Homo sapiens: one gene and its partner. The protein of the gene in region 1 interacts with the protein of each later gene in a biochemical or structural test. Each region holds a gene or a part of one and is shown on either strand. Other genes may lie near its edges. The genes, in order: WDR82 and SETD1B.

The links.
Region 2: the proteins of WDR82 (region 1) and SETD1B form a complex in vitro, tested with the Homo sapiens proteins (one study listed by BioGRID).

Annotation. Positions count from the first base shown.
Region 1 is NC_000003.12:52,259,947-52,269,012, forward strand, and holds part of WDR82 (WD repeat-containing protein 82), read right to left. Parts: intron 8,416-9,066; exon of another isoform or gene 8,332-8,415; intron 7,073-8,331; coding exon 7,006-7,072; intron 1,534-7,005; coding exon 1,434-1,533; intron 556-1,433; coding exon 439-555; intron 1-438. UniProt on the Homo sapiens protein: Regulatory component of the SET1/COMPASS complex implicated in the tethering of this complex to transcriptional start sites of active genes.
Region 2 is NC_000012.12:121,797,860-121,807,270, reverse strand, and holds the start of SETD1B (histone-lysine N-methyltransferase SETD1B), read right to left. Parts: upstream 3,263-9,411; 5' UTR 3,038-3,262; intron 2,898-3,037; exon of another isoform or gene 2,882-2,897; intron 2,548-2,881; 5' UTR 2,534-2,547; coding exon 2,360-2,533; intron 2,154-2,359; coding exon 2,055-2,153; intron 1,437-2,054; coding exon 1,166-1,436; intron 1-1,165. UniProt on the Homo sapiens protein: Histone methyltransferase that catalyzes methyl group transfer from S-adenosyl-L-methionine to the epsilon-amino group of 'Lys-4' of histone H3 (H3K4) via a non-processive mechanism.

The DNA of each region.
Region 1 (9,066 bases):
CTTTAGATTACTTTTTGACTAAGGAAAGCAGAGAATGAGCTACTTCTCTGCCACTCTCTAATATCTACCACATTTTTCCTTTTGTAGAAAAGGCTCTTACAGGGCCGGGCGCGGTGGCTCACGCCTGTAATCCCAGCACTTTGGGAGGCCGAGGTGGGTGGATCACCAGAGGTGAGGAGTTTGAGACCAGCCTGACCAACATGGTGAAACCCATCTCTACTAAATACAAAAAATTAGCCAGGCGTGGTGGCGGACACGTGTAATCCCAGCTACTTGGGAGGCTGAGGCAGGAGAATCACTTGAACCTGGGAGGCAGAGGTTGCAGTGAGCTGAGATTACACCACTGCACTCCAGCCTGGGCAATAAGAGCAAAACTCTGTCTCAAAAACAAAACAAAACAAAAAACAGCTCAAAGATCTCAAAGATTCAAAGATTTACCTTATCAAAAGAACGAAGGTCATAAAGCTTGACCATTTCAGAGTTGACACCTGCAGCGAAAATTAACCCTTCTGGATCAAAAGAACAAACTGGCTTCCCCTGCAGATGCATGAGGCCCTAAGAGAAAAGAAATAAGAAATACACTAAAACACACATGCCACAACCATACGTGGAATAACCAAAGACTGCTGGTACAATGGGGAAAAAAAAATGAATCCAGGACCTTACCACTATATAATTTACTTTTCCCAATTAAAACTAAGAAAGGCATACAAACAAATATCAGCCTACCTACAGAACACACACAAAAAAAACATAAAACTAAAATGAAGCTTTTAAAAAACAGGTCTCCAGACAACAATTTCTGATCAACTCTAACTGCACAATATTACAGACACAGAATTCAAATAAAAATAAATCCCTTGAAGCTAAAAGCTCTAGGAACACTTTTAAAAACATTAAGCCAGCTGGGCGCAGTGGCTCACGCCTATAATCCCAGAACTTTGGGAGGCCAAGGTAGGAGGATCACCTGAGGTCAGGAGACTAGCCTGACCAACATGGAGAAACCCCGTCTCTACTAAAAATACAAAATTAGCCAGACATGGTGGTGCATGACTGTAATCCCAGCTACTTGGGAGGCTGAGGCAGAAGAATCGCTTGAACCCTGGAGGTGGAGGTTGCGGTGAGCTGAGATTGCACCATTGCACTCCAGCCTGGGCAACAAGAGCGAAACCCTGTCTCAAAACAAAAACAAAAACAAAACAAAACAACAAAAAACCCACAACAATTAAGCCACAGAGTACAATGCAATCTGCACTAGATTAGGGTATGTGCTTAGCAGCTACCAACTAAAAAAACAGATTTTCTCCAAAGTTTAAAAAGACCCTGTGATCCCAGAATGGAACCACTGTTTTCTCCCTTCTTTGAGAGGTAGAGTTCATTACAGTGCCTACCAAAGAAAATGCTCAAAAAGTATAACTGTGAGGTACCATTACCTGGCAGTTAGGAGACCGGAGATCCCAGAGTCGAATGGTCTTATCAAGAGACCCAGAAATGAAAGTGTCATCCACAGGTGACATGGACAAGGCCACCACCCTGCAATACATCGAGATAAATAGGAGTTGATGCGAAATATTAGCAAAAATTGGATGTGAATTCTAAACCACTCTGCCTATCTATACATATATATACCTGTTCTCCCAAAATTGCCATTTTAAGAAACACAATAAAACACACATACCACAACCATATCTGGAACAAACAAAGGCAACTAGTATAAAAAAAAAAATTTAAAGCTACAAAATAAAAATATATGATTCCAATGCAAATCAAAACCACAATGAAATACTACTCCACACCCTCTAGCATAGCTATAATAAGAGAGATAACAAGTGTTGGTGAGGATGCAGAGAAATTGGAACCCTCATACATTGCTAATGGAAATGTAAAAATGGTACAGTTGCTTTGGAAAAGTTTTTCCAAAAAAAGTTACCACGTGACCCAGAAACTCCACTCCTAGGTATTTACCCAAGATAACTGAAAATATATGTCCACACAAAAATGTACACATATGTTCAGATCTGCACTATTCATAACAGCCAAAAAGTAGAAATAACCCAAATGGTCCATTAACTAATGGATGGACAAACAAAATGTGCTGTATCTATACACTGGAACATTATTTGGCAATAAAAAGTAATAAAGTACTGCCTCATGTGACAACATGGAGGAACCTTGGGAACACCATGCTAAGTAAAAGAAGCCAGGCACAAAAGATCAGATATGAACTGATCCATTTACACAAAATGTCTAGAATAGGCAAATCTATAAAGACAGAAGTAGATCAGCAGTTGGTAGGGGCTGAGGGAGTGATTACTAATGGGTACAGAGTTTCTCTTTGGAGTGATAAAAATGTTCTGAAGTTAGATGATGGTGATAGTTGTCCAACTTTGCAAATATAGTAAAAACCACTGAACTGTACATTTTTAAAGGAATCATTTACAGTATGTAGACTGTATCTCAATTAAAAAAACACAAAAAAGCATGATTCCTTATCAAGATGTGTGAGGACTACACAGATATTCTCAAACCTAAGTGGCATCAGCATCACCTGGAGGGTGGGTTAAAACAGACTGCTAGGATCTGCTCCCAGAGCCTCTAATCCAGTAGGCCTGACTTGGGGTCTGTGAATCTGAGTTTCTAACTAGCCCCCAGGTGATGGGTGAGGCTGCTGTTTTGGGCACCACACCTAGAGAACCACAAGCCTATGCTAACAGCAACTGTATTCCTTTTTTGGTTCCCTTTTGTGGTTATACCATCAAGAGACACTCACTGAAAAACATTTTCTTCCAATGTAACTCAACTAACATCTGCACCAGCTCCTCAAGTTAAAATTTTAAAAGGTATTGTTAAAAGCCAAAATTTCCTGAGAATGCTGAGGAGGTAATAAAACACAATGAGCAGGCCAGGTGCGGTGGCTCATGCCTGTAATCCCAGCACTTTGGGAGGCCCAGGTGGGCGATCACCTGAGGTCAGGAGTTTGAGACCAGCTTGGCCAACATGGTGAAATCCCACCACTAATAAAAATACAAAAATTAGCCAGGCCTGGTGGCGTACACCTGTAATCCCAGCTACTCAAGAGGCTGAGGCGGAAGAATCGCTTGAACCCCAGAGATGGAGGCTGCAGTGAGCCAAGATCACACCACTGCATTCCAGCCTGGGAAACAGAGCAAGGCACCGTCTCAAAAAACAAAAATCAGAATGAGCAGAACACGTTGTGGACATGTAATTTTATGCCATGGCATTCAGCCCAAGAGCTCAGCACAAGACTCTATGCTGAGAAGTACAGGGAACACATGGAGAAGTAAGACCCCGACCGTAAGGAATTTTAACTGTCCAGTCCACATGACTCCAAGAGGACCAGAGAAGGCTTCTGGAAAGATACAACATCTGAGGTAGAAAGGATTTCAAAGAAGTAGCCCAGAGTTCACCTTAATGGGAATGGTGGGAGAAAATGCTGAGAAAATGGGTCAGAGCCAGAAGGGACAGAACCTGACTACAAGGGGAAGGAGCAATGAAAATATAGAGAACCATTAAGAGAGATTGTGAAGCAATCAAACTGCAATCCAGGAAGCTGAAACAGGATGGTAAGAGATGGGAAGATTAATTAGGAGCTAACAATAATTTACCTCACAGGGCATGAGCCAGGGCAGAAGCAAAGGAGAGAACACAGAGGAAAGTGACACATGAGGTTAAACCTAGGGAGAACTAAATAGTTTAACAACTCACTGAATATGATGGCAGGGGAAAAAGAGTGAACTAACAACAGATGCTTTGAGCCAGAATTGGAAGAGACAGAGATGAATAAATATGAGGAAGACAGAGAGAAGCTGGCCCAAAAAAGGTAACAATGATGGACAGAGTACTGGACCTGAGTATTAGAAAGAGTATTGGACAGAAGAGACAGCTACAAAGATGTGTATAAAACATGTAGGTGGTGCTGGGTGCAGTGGCTCATGCCTGTAATCCCAGCACTTTGGGAGGCTGAGGCGGATGGATCACCTGAGGTCAGGAGTTTGACAGCGGCCTGGCCAACATGGTGAAACCCTGTCTCTATAAAAACACAAAAATTAGCCGGGCATGATGGTGCGTGCCTGTAATCCCAGCTATTCGGGAGGCTGAGGCAGGAGAATCGTTTGAACTCAGGAGGTGGAGGTTGCAGTGAGCCAAGATCATGCCATTGCACTCCAGCCTGGGTGACCCGGTGAGCCTCCATCTCAAAAAACAAAAAAACAAACAAAACCTGTAGGTGGAAGGCGGGTCTGAAACTGATAATAGACATGAGCTAAAAATACTGATTTGGGAAGCCACCTGAATGGAGGTAAATGAAATCAGCGATGGAGATAAGAAAGCGGATAAAATATTTGTTTATTTTAGAGTCAAAACAGAGGCTGAAAACTACAAGAACAGAACCGACATGGGAAAAGTCACCTGCCACGGGAAAGTAAGTTTTACTGAGAGGTTAAGCACCAAGAAAAGCCCAAACCAGTGGCTTTTTAACTAGAGGCAGCAGGGAATGAAGGATAAAGGTTTGGATAAAGCCCCATAGACGATTCTGGGACTAGTGCAAAAATGATTTCAACAGTGAACATGTGTGAGGAGGTGGAGATGGGAATGTACAGATTCTTCTTTCAAGTTTGATAGTGAAAAGGAGTGGGTGATAGGGTCAATAAGTAGATTTAAGATAAGAAAGACCAAGTAAATTTGTAGGCAACAAAGGAAAGGCCAATTAAGGAGATGGAAGCAAGCAGAAAGAGGAAGGTCTGTTTTGTGAAAGAAAGACAACAGCTTTCTCAAGGAAAGGATTCCAAGGAAGACAGAATTTAGGTGGAAGGGATAGATGTTTAAAAGAACTCTTTTTTTTGGAGACACGGTCTTGCTTTGTCACCCAGGCTGGAGTACAGTGGCACAATCATGGCTCACTGCAGCCTCAACCTCCCAGACTCAAGCGATCCTCTCACCTCAGCCTCCCAAAGTGCTGATAACAGGCCTTAACCACCACACCCAGCTGAAATAACTCATTTTGTATAGCCTTGATTTTCTCATAAAAGGAGGGACAAAGTCATCTATCAAGAATCAGGAGGTCGGCCAGCCGGGTGCGGTGGCTCACGTCTGTAATCCCAGCACTTTGGGAGGCTGAGGCGGGCGGATCAGGGACCATCCTGGGTAACACGGTAAAACCCCATCTCTACTAAAAATACAAAAAACTAGCGGGGCTTGGTGGCGGGTGCCTGTGGTCCCAGCTACTCAGGAGGCTGAGGCAGGAGAATGGCGTGAACCCAAGAGGCGGAGCCTGCAGTGAGCCAACATTGCACCACTGCACTCCAGCCTGGGCGACAGAGCGAGACTCTGTCTCAAAAAAAAAAAAAAAAAAAAAAAAAAAAAAAAAAAAGAATCAGGAGGTCAAGAGGTTGAATAATTGGGAAGACTGGAAAGCACGTCAAACAACTGCATCAACTCTTAATTACAAATAGTACATTTGTGAACATTAATTTGAATAAAAACAAGCAAAACATCTACTTATCATGAGCCATCCTTTGTCTGAAACCAGTTACCACTGGTTGCCACCTTATTTCACCTTTATTTCAGCAACACAAATGGCCTGCCCAACTGGAAGTGCAACTTTTTTTTTTTTTTTTTTTTTTTGAGACAGGGTCTTGCTCTGTCACCCAGGCTGGATGGAGTGCAGTGGCGCCACCTTGGCTCAATGCAGCCTCTGTCTCGCGGGTTCAAGCAATTCTCGTGCCTGAGCCTCCGAAGTAGTAGGAATTACAGGCGCACACCACCACTCCTGGCTAATTTTTGTATTTTTTGTAGAGACAGGGTTTCACCATGTTGCCTAGCCTGGTTTTGAACTCCTGCACTCAAGCAATCTGTCCTCCTCAGCCTTCCAAAGAGCTGGGATTACAGGCATTAAGCCACCACGCCTGGCCTGGAAGTGCAATTTCTAACAGGAGGCTCTCAGGCCATCTCCTGTCAGGGCTCCATACCAATCGAAACCATCCTGGGTTACTGTACATTTGCAAATGGATGCAGGAAAAAATACCCCAAGTGATTAAAATATTATCCAGGGGAAAACGTGTTTAACATTCAAAGAAAAGTTGAAAAATTAGAGAAAAAAGTAACTAGGGGCATTGGGGTGAAGAACAGAGAGAAGCAACCTGCATTACAATACAGAAAAAGGAGATAAACTTCTTGATTTTAAAAAAAGGACTTTCTTTTGCATTCTCATTAAGATCTTTAAATGGAACATTTTTACATAGGGGCCCACTGAAATGGGGGCCACATATATTGGAAGGCCTCATAAACACAAACAGTCCTTTATTAAGGGATATGTGAGATTTGGTATTCCTAAATGCCAAATCTAATTTTTACTACATAAGTTTTCACTGAATATCTTTAATCCACATTTTTTCTAGTTTTATATGTATATATAAAACTAGAAATATATATATCTAACTAGAAATAGATATACCTATAACTAGAAAAAATATATATACATATATATCTTTGAGACGGAGTCTCACTCTGTCGCCCAAGCTGGAGTGCAGTGGCGCGATCTCGGCTCATTGCAACCTCTGCCTCCTGGGTTCAAGCGATTCTCCTGCCTCAGCCTCCCGAGTAGCTGGGATTGCAGGTGTCCACCACCATACCTGGCTAATTTTTGTATTTTTAGTAGAGATGGGGTTTTGACACGTTGGCCTGGCTGGTTTCAAACTCCCGGCCTCAAGTGATCCGCCCGCCGCGGCCTCCCAAAGTGCTGGGATTACAGGTGTGAGCCACTGCACTGGGCCTAGTTATATTTTAACTGAGGTATCTCTGAACACCTACCTCTGCACCTCTATAACCTCAGTAAATCAAGAGTTGACTATTTAAGAGAAGATGAAGAATGCCAAGCAGTAGTGAGGAAGTAGCTTCAGTTCACTAATAAGCTCTCTCTAGCCTTCTATTCTCTGGGTAACCTCAGGGATAAAAGAACTATCTGCTTCTATAATACGTGGGTCTTACCTTTTGCTATGTCCAGGAAAGTATCTGATGTATTTGTTGTCATGCAAGGACAAGTAACGAATAGTATCTGTAAAAAGACAAACAAGGTATGATGATATCATACTATTTAAAAGAAATTTACTTTACATTTTCATCTTAAAAAGACAAGGTCAAATAATCCATTGTATTCTATATCCCAAGCAAGGCATGAATAAATAATGGTGAATAATTCTACTCTGCAGCTGAAGAGTGGGTATGTAGATTTCACCTAACTCAAAAGCAGAGTTCTTAAGTTGACAGCATAGAAAGCAATGTTTGAAATGACCTTTTATTACCAATTTGGTTTCTTCATAATTACAATGCAACTCCCACCCTGCAAATATACCCTGGTCAAAAAACAAAAACAAGTAAAGCACACATAATAATTTTAGATACTGGTCTAGTGTCCACAGAATGGCAAACCTTAAAGAAAAATATGTGGCTGTTGAGCTAACAGACTTAAAGAGGTGAGCAGCCATGGCAGTTAAACTGAAGATCAGGTTGAACCCTGGCAGCAATTTTTGTCTAGAGTTCTCCATCAGTATGTTGACCCACCCTCAACTCATTTGAACATTCTTCAATTGGACACACAAATTACAATGAAAATAAACAAAACGTCAGAGAAGTGATGTCAAGATCTGGGTTAAAAAGATCTTAAGACATTAAAAAAATCAAATTCTTATACCAATGAGTAATAGCAGTGAGATTTTGACAATATTAAAGAAAGGAACAATCAGAGATTTGTGCTTGTGGAAAAATAAGACACTCTTAACCAAATGATTCTATCTGAAAGAGTAAACAAACAAAAAACATGGTGGCGGTAGAGAAATGAAGTGCCATAAAGAATAAAACTGCAAAATAGAAAAGTATTATCCCCTTAAAAAGACTAGGAATAAGGAAAAATTGTTGAGAAACAGCTAAGGGAAAATGGTACCAAAATGCAGAAAGAAAACCATAGAAAGAACATTCTGAAGGCAAACAGAACATAGGAATAAAGGGGTTGAAAGCATCGAGTCATCCCAGGGGTTCACAGGGGTGCTTTCTAATAAGAGGGCATTTAACTTGGGAGGGGGAATAGGGGAATAGGGATATTTGTATATTCCATAACTTGAACACTACACAATTTTCCTTGAAAACATCTTCAAACTTCTTGAATGACAACTACGAAGTATTTCTAGTTATTCTACTGCTAACAATGACTCACCTGCCCTAAGAAGAAAAAGACTTCCTCCCCATTACCTGGTTTCCCAGAGATGAGCAGGGTGACGCCATCCTCTCAGCCCCACTTGGCAGCTGGCGCGCTGTTCCTGGCAAGGCAGTGGCCTGTACAGTTATCTCCTGTACCGGGTGGTATCATAGACCCTCAAACTGTACAAACTACTACCTCAGCCTGGAATCAGGCAAAAGGAAACGGAGCGCTGGAGGAACTCTTCAGGATGCACTTGAGACAGGAAAGGGAACATCCTCACAGCAGAGGCTTGGCAGCAAAGCTACAAGTGCCACACATTTGCCTCATCTTGCACCACATTTGGAGAATCCTCATTTAATCACTCAGAAAAACATCCCAACAGAAGAAATAAACCAGTCATTCGGATGATCACATAGACATGTTTCCTCAGGATCCTAAGGTTTTACATTCTTTTCCAAAATCATTAACTACACTGCTTCCTTAGAAAACCACTTCTGAAATACAGGCATGAAAAGTAGAAATGACATACTTAACTAAAAATCAATACAGGCAGAAGAGTCTCATTAAAAAAAAAAAAAAATGGAAAAAAGGACTTCCGCCCATTCTGCTCTGAGATAGGCACAGCCAAAATAGCAGTATAAGCTATCCTTGTGGAATGACATTAGAAAAATCTTTTTTGTTTTTTTGAGATGGAGCCTCGCTCTGTCACCCAGGTTGGAGTGCAGTGGTGTGATCACCCTAGACCTCCAGGGCTCAAGCAATCCTCCCACCTCAGCCTTACAAGTGGCTGGGACTACAGGCGCGTCCCATCACACCTGGCTAATTTTTGTATTTTTTGTAGAGACGGGGTTTTC
Region 2 (9,411 bases), on another chromosome or scaffold:
GACTGTGGACTGGACAGAAAAAGAGGGCTGTGCCCTGAGAGGAGGAACAGAACCGGGCACAGGCTCGGCAAGTGTGCGTGGAATAACTGCCACCACCCCCCGGCACCGGCTTAGAGCTCGGTCAATACATTTTAATCATTAAACGCAAAAAAAGAAAAGTTCTGATTTTCCTGCCTTGGGTTTGGTGTGTCCCAGTTGTCCCTGAACGCCATGCTCACAAAATTCCTGGAAGCTGCACTTTTGCCCTCCCAGGCAGGGTTTCCCAGGGGACCCCGGTGGGCTAGGGACCGAATGACATCTCCCCACAAGCTGGCTGGCCCTCAAAGCACTCGGCACCTTCTTTTATAGGTGGGAGCTTCCCTAAAGAGGCCTCAGGCACACTTTGGGGAATGCCCTCGAGTCCTCCAAGCCCCTTGGTCCTGCAGGGGCCTCCGAAGACCCACAGGGTGGGAGGTATGGCCTCCCCAGCCAGCTCCAGAGAGCACCTAGCTGATTCCAGAGCAGGGGAGGTGCTGCGGTCTCTTTAAGAGAGAGGAGGGAAGACACAGTGTCAACCCTTGAGCACCCAGAGCCGCCTGCCTGGCTCTTCCCTCTTCCCGGCTCTGCTCTTCCCCGGCGGCTCTGTCGAGAACCTTATCAATGAAACAACACTCCTGGCCCCAGATTGGCTGCCACTTCCAGAGGGGAAGGGGCAGCAAGGAGGTGGGGGGACACCCTGGATCCTTAGAGGACTCTCTTTTCAGTTTTCAGACCTTCTCTTGATGTATTTCAAGGCATCCTAGTGGCACTTCCTCAGTCCCCCACAAGTAAACAAACTCTGTCTCCTCCCCTAACACAGGCAACACTGGGGACTGTCTAAACCCAAGCCACCAGGGCTCAGAGAGGGGGCCCGCGGGGGTGTCAGCGGTGGGGAAGCCTCCGGGTGGTCCCTAGGGGTGCGGTGGCCAAGGACCGGCACATTTGGTAAATTACAGACTGTCTCCTAGCAACAGACAACACATTTAGCTCCACGCGACTCTACCCTCAGGAGGGGGCTAAGAAATAAGGTTGTGGGGGGGGATCCCAAGGAAGAGTGAGGGGGGGTCCTCCCCACGCTGCAGGAAGGGTGGGGAGGGAAAGGGTCGGGCTGACAGGTCTCCCCACGCTCCTCCCCTGCCAGGCTCACCTTTGGTGTCCAGCTCCACGTGGATAATGTTGCCCATGACGGAAGTGCTGTGCAAGTGCTGAACGGCATCCTTGGCTCCCCGGACCGTGGCAAAGACCACCTTGGCGATGCCCAGGTGCTTCTTGGTCTTGGGGTTGTACAAAATCTCCACCTCCTCCACCTCCCCATACTTCTTGCACATGTCCCTCAGGAAGTTTTCACGGATGTTATCATTCAGCTTGGCAAATGTCACCTGCTTCGGAGGCACCGGGCCCACGTAGAACTCATCGATCTGGCAGGGGCCGAGGGGGAAGGGAGTTTGAAGAACGTTTAAACCTAAGGGAAAACACAACATCCCCCCCGCCCCGCCCGCAACTCGCCCACCCGTTGAAAACAATAAAGGGTAAAAAAACTAAAAATTAAAAAAAAAAAAAAAATTTTTTTTGGAAAAAAAAAATGCACGCGGGCGGGCCCGGGAAGCGGAGGATTAAATCGTTTGGAACGTGGAAGTCCTCTGGGTTCGGAAGGAAAGGGGAAAAAGAAACAGTTTCTCTTTCCCCACCCCCCTTTCTGGCCTTCTCTTCCTGCTGCCGGGTCAGGGGCGACCCCTCAGGCTTAAGAAGTTGTCCTGTAGTGGGCTAGCGAGAGGGGAGAGTCTCGGAGCCGAGCCCCCCGCGGGGCGTGCAGGACACTGTATCTGCGCCGTGATTACAGTTTCACCCAGTGTTATTTTGTTTTCAGTAGCTGAGAGGGGACACCCTCTCGCCAGCGCTCTACCCCTCCCCGCCAAAACTTCCCTGGCCCCGGACGGCGGGAACTGGGAATCCGGCTGGGCTCGGTCAGGACTGGCGTTATTTTCGAACTCGGGGAGGTGGGGGAGGGACGGCGGGGCAGTGGGGAGGGGTCCTACCTTGAATTTGGGCACCGACAGCTCCAGCTCCTTGTTTTTGGTCCAGATCCCGACGACCCGGGGATCTTCGACAATTTCCACCGGGCGGTTGCTGGACATCTGTGGGGAGAAATTGGGGGGCCGGGATGAGAGAACTGGTCCCCCTCCCCATGGGCAGACCCCTTTCTCGAGGCACTTGTCAAACTCCAGGGCTGGGGCCCCGTCTGACAGTTGGCCGGGGGATCGGGCGGGGGGTCCCTGGCCGCTAGGCGCGTCTCCCCGGACACGACGCGGGGCACGGCTGGGGGGGCGCGCCGGCTACTCACCGCCAGGCTGAAATGCTGCCCATCGTAGCGGTACAGTTTATGATGCCCCTTTTTCAGAGCCGGGTCAATCATCAACTTGTAACTTCTCCAATGGTGGTTCCTCCTCTCGCCCGAAGGGCCGGGCTGCGGCGGGGGCTGCTGGTGGTGGTGGTGGGGGGGGTGACTGTTCTCCATGCCGTTAACCCAACCTGAAAACCAGCAAGTTGTTGTCGTCTCCGCCGCGGCGGCGGCGGCGGCCGCTTCTACACACACGCGAAAGAATCCAATCGGCAGGCCCCCACCCCCTCCCACCTTGCCAGCGCGCCCCGAAAGGAGCTGTCTCGCTGGCTCCCCCCAAAACAAGAATGGAGCGAGAGAATAACCCTTCCGGGAGAATTACGCGCCCGCCCGCTCGGCCACCGTCTCGGGGCGGCAGCGAGGGGCTCCCGGGGGTCCCCTGGGCGGGCTGGCGGGGCCCGGGGCGCCCGGAGGACGCGGACTCCGGCCCATGGTGCCCGCCCGGCCGCCCGGCGTGGCGCTCACCCGCTAGCTCGGCCCGGCTCTGGCGCGAGGCTGGCGGCAGGGCCTGGCGGCGCCGCCGCCCGCCCGCCCGCTCGCCCGCTCGGGCCAGGGCCGGGGCCGGGGGCTTGGGCCGCCCGGCTGCCGGCCGCGGCCTCTCCCTCCCCGAGCCGCGCTTACATCCCCGCCGGGCGCCGGCCTCCCTGCGCCGCCAGCCAGTACATGGTGTCCCCCGAGGGAGCCGAGGCCGGGGCGGCCGGACCGGGGGCCAGGAAGGGGGGGCGCCGCCGCCGCGGCTGCCGGGCCCGGAGCTGCTGCCGCTGCCGCCGCCGCTGCTGCTGCTGCTGCCCGGGAGGCGGCTGGCGGCGGAGGCTCGGCTCCCAGTAGCCGCACATCCCACAATACACCGCTAAGGAGCCCGACCCGAGCGCTCACCCTCCTCCTCTTCCTCCTCCTCCTCCTCTTCCTCCTCCCCTCTCCTTCCTCGCCGCTTCCCCAGGCACTCTCCCGGCGGCGGCAGCTGCGCCGCCAAAGCCCCGGGCCCCAGCGGCCCCCCACCCCTCACTCGCGCGCTCCCACACTGCCTCCCCCTCCCCGGGGGAAGGCCTTTTAATTTATTTATTTTTCTGGGACTGGGGTGGGGGTCTTGGCTGGCGGGGGAGGGGGTCTCCCCGGGCTCTACCTCCCGCGGCCGGGACTACCCTCAGAGCCGCGACCGCCGCGGCGTGCGTCCCGGGCCTGCAAAACTGTTTCCAAACTGCCCGGGCCGGAGGCGGGCGCGCGGGGCCCGGGGAGATGGCTGGGGTCTGGGGGGCCGAGGGTGTGTGTGGACGCTGGGAGCCGCGGGGGGAGGCCGGCGTCGACTCAGAGGAGTTGCAATCGAGGTATCTGCGCTCCGGCTTCCTCCTGCGGCCCGCGACCCCCTCCCCGGAGCTGAGCTGGGGAAGGGAGACCAGGGTTCACCACGTTAGCATTCGCATTCCTGGGAGGATGCAGCCCTCGCCTGGACCTGGGCGATAGACGCCTTCTTCTGTTTTTATTTTTGGAGGGGAGCGCCCTGTAATTGTCCTGAACACATGCTTCCCCCCCTTCCTCCAGCCACCCGCGGAGGAGAGAGTCCCCCTTTTTTGCATTTATCTTTTCCTTCCCCTTTCTTTATTAAAGGTCCGGGAGTGGCGGCGGCCAATCAGCGCGCGGCTTCCATTTTGTGAGTTCAACTCCGAGGCTCCCGGGCTTCGCGAGGACGCGTTTGCAGCCCCCTCTGCCGCTCCTCTCTGGCGGCCGAGGCGCAGGAGCCGCCTCGCCGGGGCTCGGAGCTGGTGTAGCTCATATTGGGGCTCTTTTCGGGGTTTGTAATTTGGCCGTGGGTAGGTAATTGGCTGGAGCAGGGCGGCAGGGCGCGGCAGCCAATCAGCGCGCGGCTTCTATAGGGCTTGAGTTATTAGACGCTGATCTCAAAACATCCTTCATCAGACACGAAGGAGAGGCCAACAGATGAGGGAAGCCATTTTTCTGCAATGGAATTAAATGGCCAAGTGGGTTTTTCCTTTGTTGCAAATGGGGAATGTTTTTCCTTTGACTCTACCATCCAGTTCAGGACGTCTCAGTGTGTTTAACATTTGTCAACAGGCCCAAGGACTCACAGTTGGAAGACTGGAGAAGACTTTTTAAAAAGATCTGGATTTTTCCTTATGACTTGGAATCCATCTTTGTCTTGTATAACTAGGTCATAGCACACCATTCATGTCAGCAGTTAACAGTTTTGAATTCCAAAAAAACCTAAGTAAATGACATATTTTTTTTCCTCTTTTTGTTCTATGGGTGGGTGGGGGGAGCTTGGAGCTGTCTTAATCTGTATTCTCTTGACTGAACAATAAATTTTTAAATATATCTAGTTTCCTCTATTAAACACTTAAACCTGGCCATCTTATTAACTCCTTCTCTCTTTTTAACAAGGTAATGTTTTAAATGTATATAGCTTTAGGACTAGCGAAATGGCAGCAACAAAAAATTGTGAGCAGTTGTTACTCTTTTAGTTTTTAAAAAACCTTTTACATTGTAAGTACCCAATCCATTCTGTCCTGACGCAGTACAGTTTTGATGTTAATGTTGCTGAGATGTCCTTAATTTTCCGAACCTTCATCTGCATGTATGTCTTTGTCTCTCTTGTCTAATATAAGCCAGTTAAGATGCTTGAGACGATCTTGCTTTATAAAGCTAAGGTTCTAGCTTTATGCTTTTGAAAATGTTTACAGCACTAAATGCTAGTCAGCTTTCTTCCCCGTAGCTTGTACACTTTCTTTGAAAATCGATCTATTTGAAGAAAAACAGCCCTGTTTTTCTCGTCTTTGGTGTTGGGGGTTGGGGGGAGCTGGTGGGTGAGGGAAAGGAAGACCTTTTCTTTGTGTAGAGAGACTAAAGCCGTCACAGGAAACTAGATTAAAACTGGAAAACAAGTCCTAGCTGGTTCCAGCAAACACCAACGTTAAGTGGGGGGTATTTTCTATGGTGGTTGGGCGGCTGGTGCGTCTTGTGCCTTTTGTTTGATTTGACTGTATTTTCGCCTTTTGTCTCTTAATGACGATCACACCATTGCTATATCCAGAGCAGTAAACAGTCCTCAGCGAAGCCGCCTTTTTGCCTACCCAACCCTGGAAAGTTTGCAGAAGTGGAAGGAGCAGAACGTGAGGGTGTAACTTACAAAAAGGTAATAAGAACAAAGACACCACCATAACCCCCAAATTTCCCAACTAAATCAAAAAATATATATGTTTTTACAATAACGTCTCCAAAACCACCGCCCAGCTTGATCTTCTAGACTCCATGGCACCGGGCTGAGCGGGTAAGTAAGAAAGATAAAAAGTGCCTTTTGCCCCTTCGAGGAAACCCTTTTGCAGGCCAAGCAAGGGCTGCAAGTGTTTGGGAGCTGAGAGGAGAAGGAGGATTCTGGAGCATTGTATTTGGCAGCCGGAGCGGGCAGTGGGCGGGGGGTTGGGACACGAAGGGCTCTTCGGACCCCTGTGCCTCTTCTGCCCCAAGGGCGAGAAGACGGGCTTCGCAGCGACCCTCGGGGGTCCATGGAGCCGCCTGCCTTCGCCCCCTCGCTCTTCCCAGGTCTGAACCTGGATGGGGAGAAGAAATTGAAGTGCTTTGGAGACGGGGGGGCTTAAAACACTAGGGAGCCTCATCGCCCAGCCTTGGGCCCACTTTCCTTTCGATCGTGAGGATTCCGCACCCCGAAGCCGGCTTCTCGGGGCTCCGGGGCGCGCCTGCGCTGGCAACGCGAAGGAGGACAAAAGGCCGGCGTCCATGTTGGCACCATGACGCAGCATCTCCGCCCGCAGCCCGGAGCTGCTGTCCTCCCGGCCGCGCTCGCTCCTCCTCCCAAACACCAGTTTTCTTTACAGGCTTCGAGCCCGTCGCGGCTGGGCCGGGCTGGTCTGGCAGGCGGGCCCAGCCGGGCAGGGCTGCTTTGCTAATGGCGGCGGCTCTCTTTCCTTCCTTCCTCCTTTCCTCCGTCCCCCCGGTCGTGGGGAGCCCGGAGCAGGAGGCGGGCCCGCGGCCAGGTCGGGCCCCGAGAGCCCGCGGGGCGCAGCGCTGGCGACCGGGTGTCGGGGGCCGTTTCGGGGGCCGTGGGCCTCGGGGGCGTCGCGCGCCGCGCCTCCCGCGCTCGCCTCAGCCGGGCGCGGCGGCCTGATGGGCGCCATTTCGCGCGCTGCCCGTGGCTGGGGCGGTGGCGGCCGCCGCGCGCCGGGCGGGAGGAGCGGCAGGGGTAGGGGGCTGGGCGACCCGGCGGCCCACGCGGGCACCAGGAGGCCTCGCCCCGGACCGCTTCCCTCTTTCGTCTTTGTCCTGCGCGGGCGCCCGCAGCCGAGGGCCACGGGGTCGGCGGGGCTTCGAGGCCGCCCCGGGTCCCACCGGCTCCTCCGGAAGCCGCGGACCGGCCTGGCCCTGACCCCAGGCCGCCCCCCGCTGCCCACCCAGCTCTGGGCGCCCAGGTCCGACCTCCCAGTCGCCCTCTGAGAGCCGAGTCAGCGCGGGGCGGGGGGTCGCCCCCTTTGTCCTCACTCAGGGCGGGAGGCCCTCGGGGTGGCCGCAGACGCCCCGTTGGGCAGCCCTCCAGCCCAGCTCTCCAGGCAGGAGGTGGGGGAAGCCTGGGAAAGCGGAGGGGGGGCCCCGGGATCCCCCGAGGCGCGGGGCTCCCGGCGAAGCCTCAGATCTCCGGCCCTTCCCGGGGAGGGTGCGGGCGGGGCGGGCCTTTGGAAATGCAGATGAGCCGCCGCCCGGGCCGGGGTTGAACCTTCTGACTCAGCCACCCCCGGCCGCCCGGGCCGCTGGGGGAGGGGCGGCGTCTGGGGTGCTCCCTTTCAGCCCCGGAGCCCGTCTGCTGTGTATTCGGCCGGTCACATCTCTCTCCCCCAACGCCCTGATCCGCCCTCCACCTTCCTCTCCTCCAGGTTCTGGGCCGGAGAAGGGGCGACGTTCGGGCACCCCCCGAATGGACAATCTTTCCTTCTGTCAACGGCAGGGGCAGGCCTAGTTTGACTCTGACAGTCCTCCCACTAAGGTAGGTGTGAGTACTTGCCCAGACCGTGAGGGAGATTTGGGGGGCTCTGGCCTGCAGCCCAGGGAGGGCCGAACCCCAAACACGCCGGGCTGGTTCTGCGGCCCCGCCCCACCCCACCCCCCCCCCCCCAGCTGCGAGCGCGTAGGGCCGCCTGCTGGGCCGCCGGGGCCATCCATCCCCGTCTGTCAGCTTCTGTTGTCAGGCATTTGGGGCGTGTAAGTCTCTGCCGAATATAGCAGCATACGAGAGGATCCACTTGCAAGTATTTCCCAGTTGTGTGTTCTTCGGCGGGGGGAGGGCCCTGGGTGCCGCCTACTTCTGAAAGACACAGGTCACTGTCAGAAAGCCCAACTGTGCTGTGGCCTTCCCTCCAGCCGCCCCCGTGGGGCATGTGGGGTGACAGTGTGAGCCGTCCTCTGATGTCTGGCTGCTAGAGAGGCAAAGAACAGAGACCCGAGGTTCCGGCCACCTTTCTCTATGAAAGGGCCTTCCTTGACGCTTCTCCACCTTCCTGGGATTGTTTTCTTCTCCAGTCCCCGAATGGGCAGGCCTGTATATAAGCCTTGTTTCTAGAACCAGACAAAGCTGGATTTGAAACCTGGCGAGCCATTGAACAGCTATGGCCTTGCGTAAGCGGTATAGCCTCCAAGCCTATTTCTCCATCTCCGAAAACAGGGCTAGATCAGTGGTTCTTAGTCTGGAACCGGCATCAGAATCACACCGGAAGGGGGGCTCACTGAAAATGGACCACCGGGCCTGGTGCCCAAGTGTCTGATTCAGTGGGTTGGTCCTTAGGACTGGCATTTCTAACAAGTTCCCAGGTGAGGTGAGGCTGATGCTGTGGTCTGGGAACACATTTTGAGACTCCAGCCCCTAGCCTGGTAACACCTGGGGTTTTGACGCAGAAGTGCCACGTTCCACGCTTGGCACATAGTAATTGATTTCATTCTAACGCTAGCCGACTTCATGTATTGAATAGTTTCCCATCTCAGTGTCTAAGAAGCTCCACAGCTGGAGATGGCGGCCCTTGGTCTCGGAGCCCCCCTCCTTGTGATTTCTGCTTTGTGATTGCTTTGATGAACCATTTGGGTCCAGGTGCTCCTGATCACACCACCTCCCCTATTTGGGACTTGTGCCCCACTCCCGCTGTGAGGGCTACACCGAGCTCTGGGGGCCTGTTCGGATTAACAAGGAGATCTTGCTAAAGGTATCTTGGTGCTAAGTTAAGGGAGATAGTTCGCCATGGGCTAGGATCTCTCAGTGCTGGTGACCTTGGGTGAGTGTCTCCCTGTAAAGTGATAAGGATGCCTGCTGGAAAGGGTGGTGGGAGGATTAAGTGCGTTAAAGAGGCCCTCCTCCCAAGCTTTTAGTTGGCCTCCATTGTGATCGTGGTTATTGCTGGGAGTGGCTGCAGGGGGTGGGGGCTGGGCTGCCTCAGAGCTTCCCCCCGCACCAGCCCACCTGCTGAAGCACGTGTCCCTGCCTCAGGGCAAAGGGGAATCTGGCGCTCCCTGGGAAGGCGGCCAACGCGGTTCTCCTCTGGAGTGGTTGAGTCCAGCTGCAGGCCTTTCCCCATCCACAGGGGCTGTTCCATGATGGGGTCAAGATTTGGGTCACCCACCCATGGTCCGGGGAGAAGTGACTCCCCAAGGTCACAAGGCCACCACCAATAGAGCCAGGATGGGGTTCCAGGTGGCTTGACTTGGCAGCCAGCGCCTGTGCCCATGGCACCCCCTCACCCCAGCTGTCTGGGTTATTTTGGGCTTCCTCCCGTGCCAGCTGTCTGCTGGCATCCCTGCCCGGGACTGTCTGGTTGGAAGTAACTGGCGTGGTGCTGTTGGCTCCTCCTGTGAGGGCCAGGGCTGGGTCTTCAATCCCCGATGAGCCGTGCTGGGTCCAGCTCCTTTGCTGGGAGGGAAGAGTGTTCCTGCCCAGACTCCCCGCTGCCCAAGTACAGCAAGAGGGCGAAAGCACCTGATAAAAATTG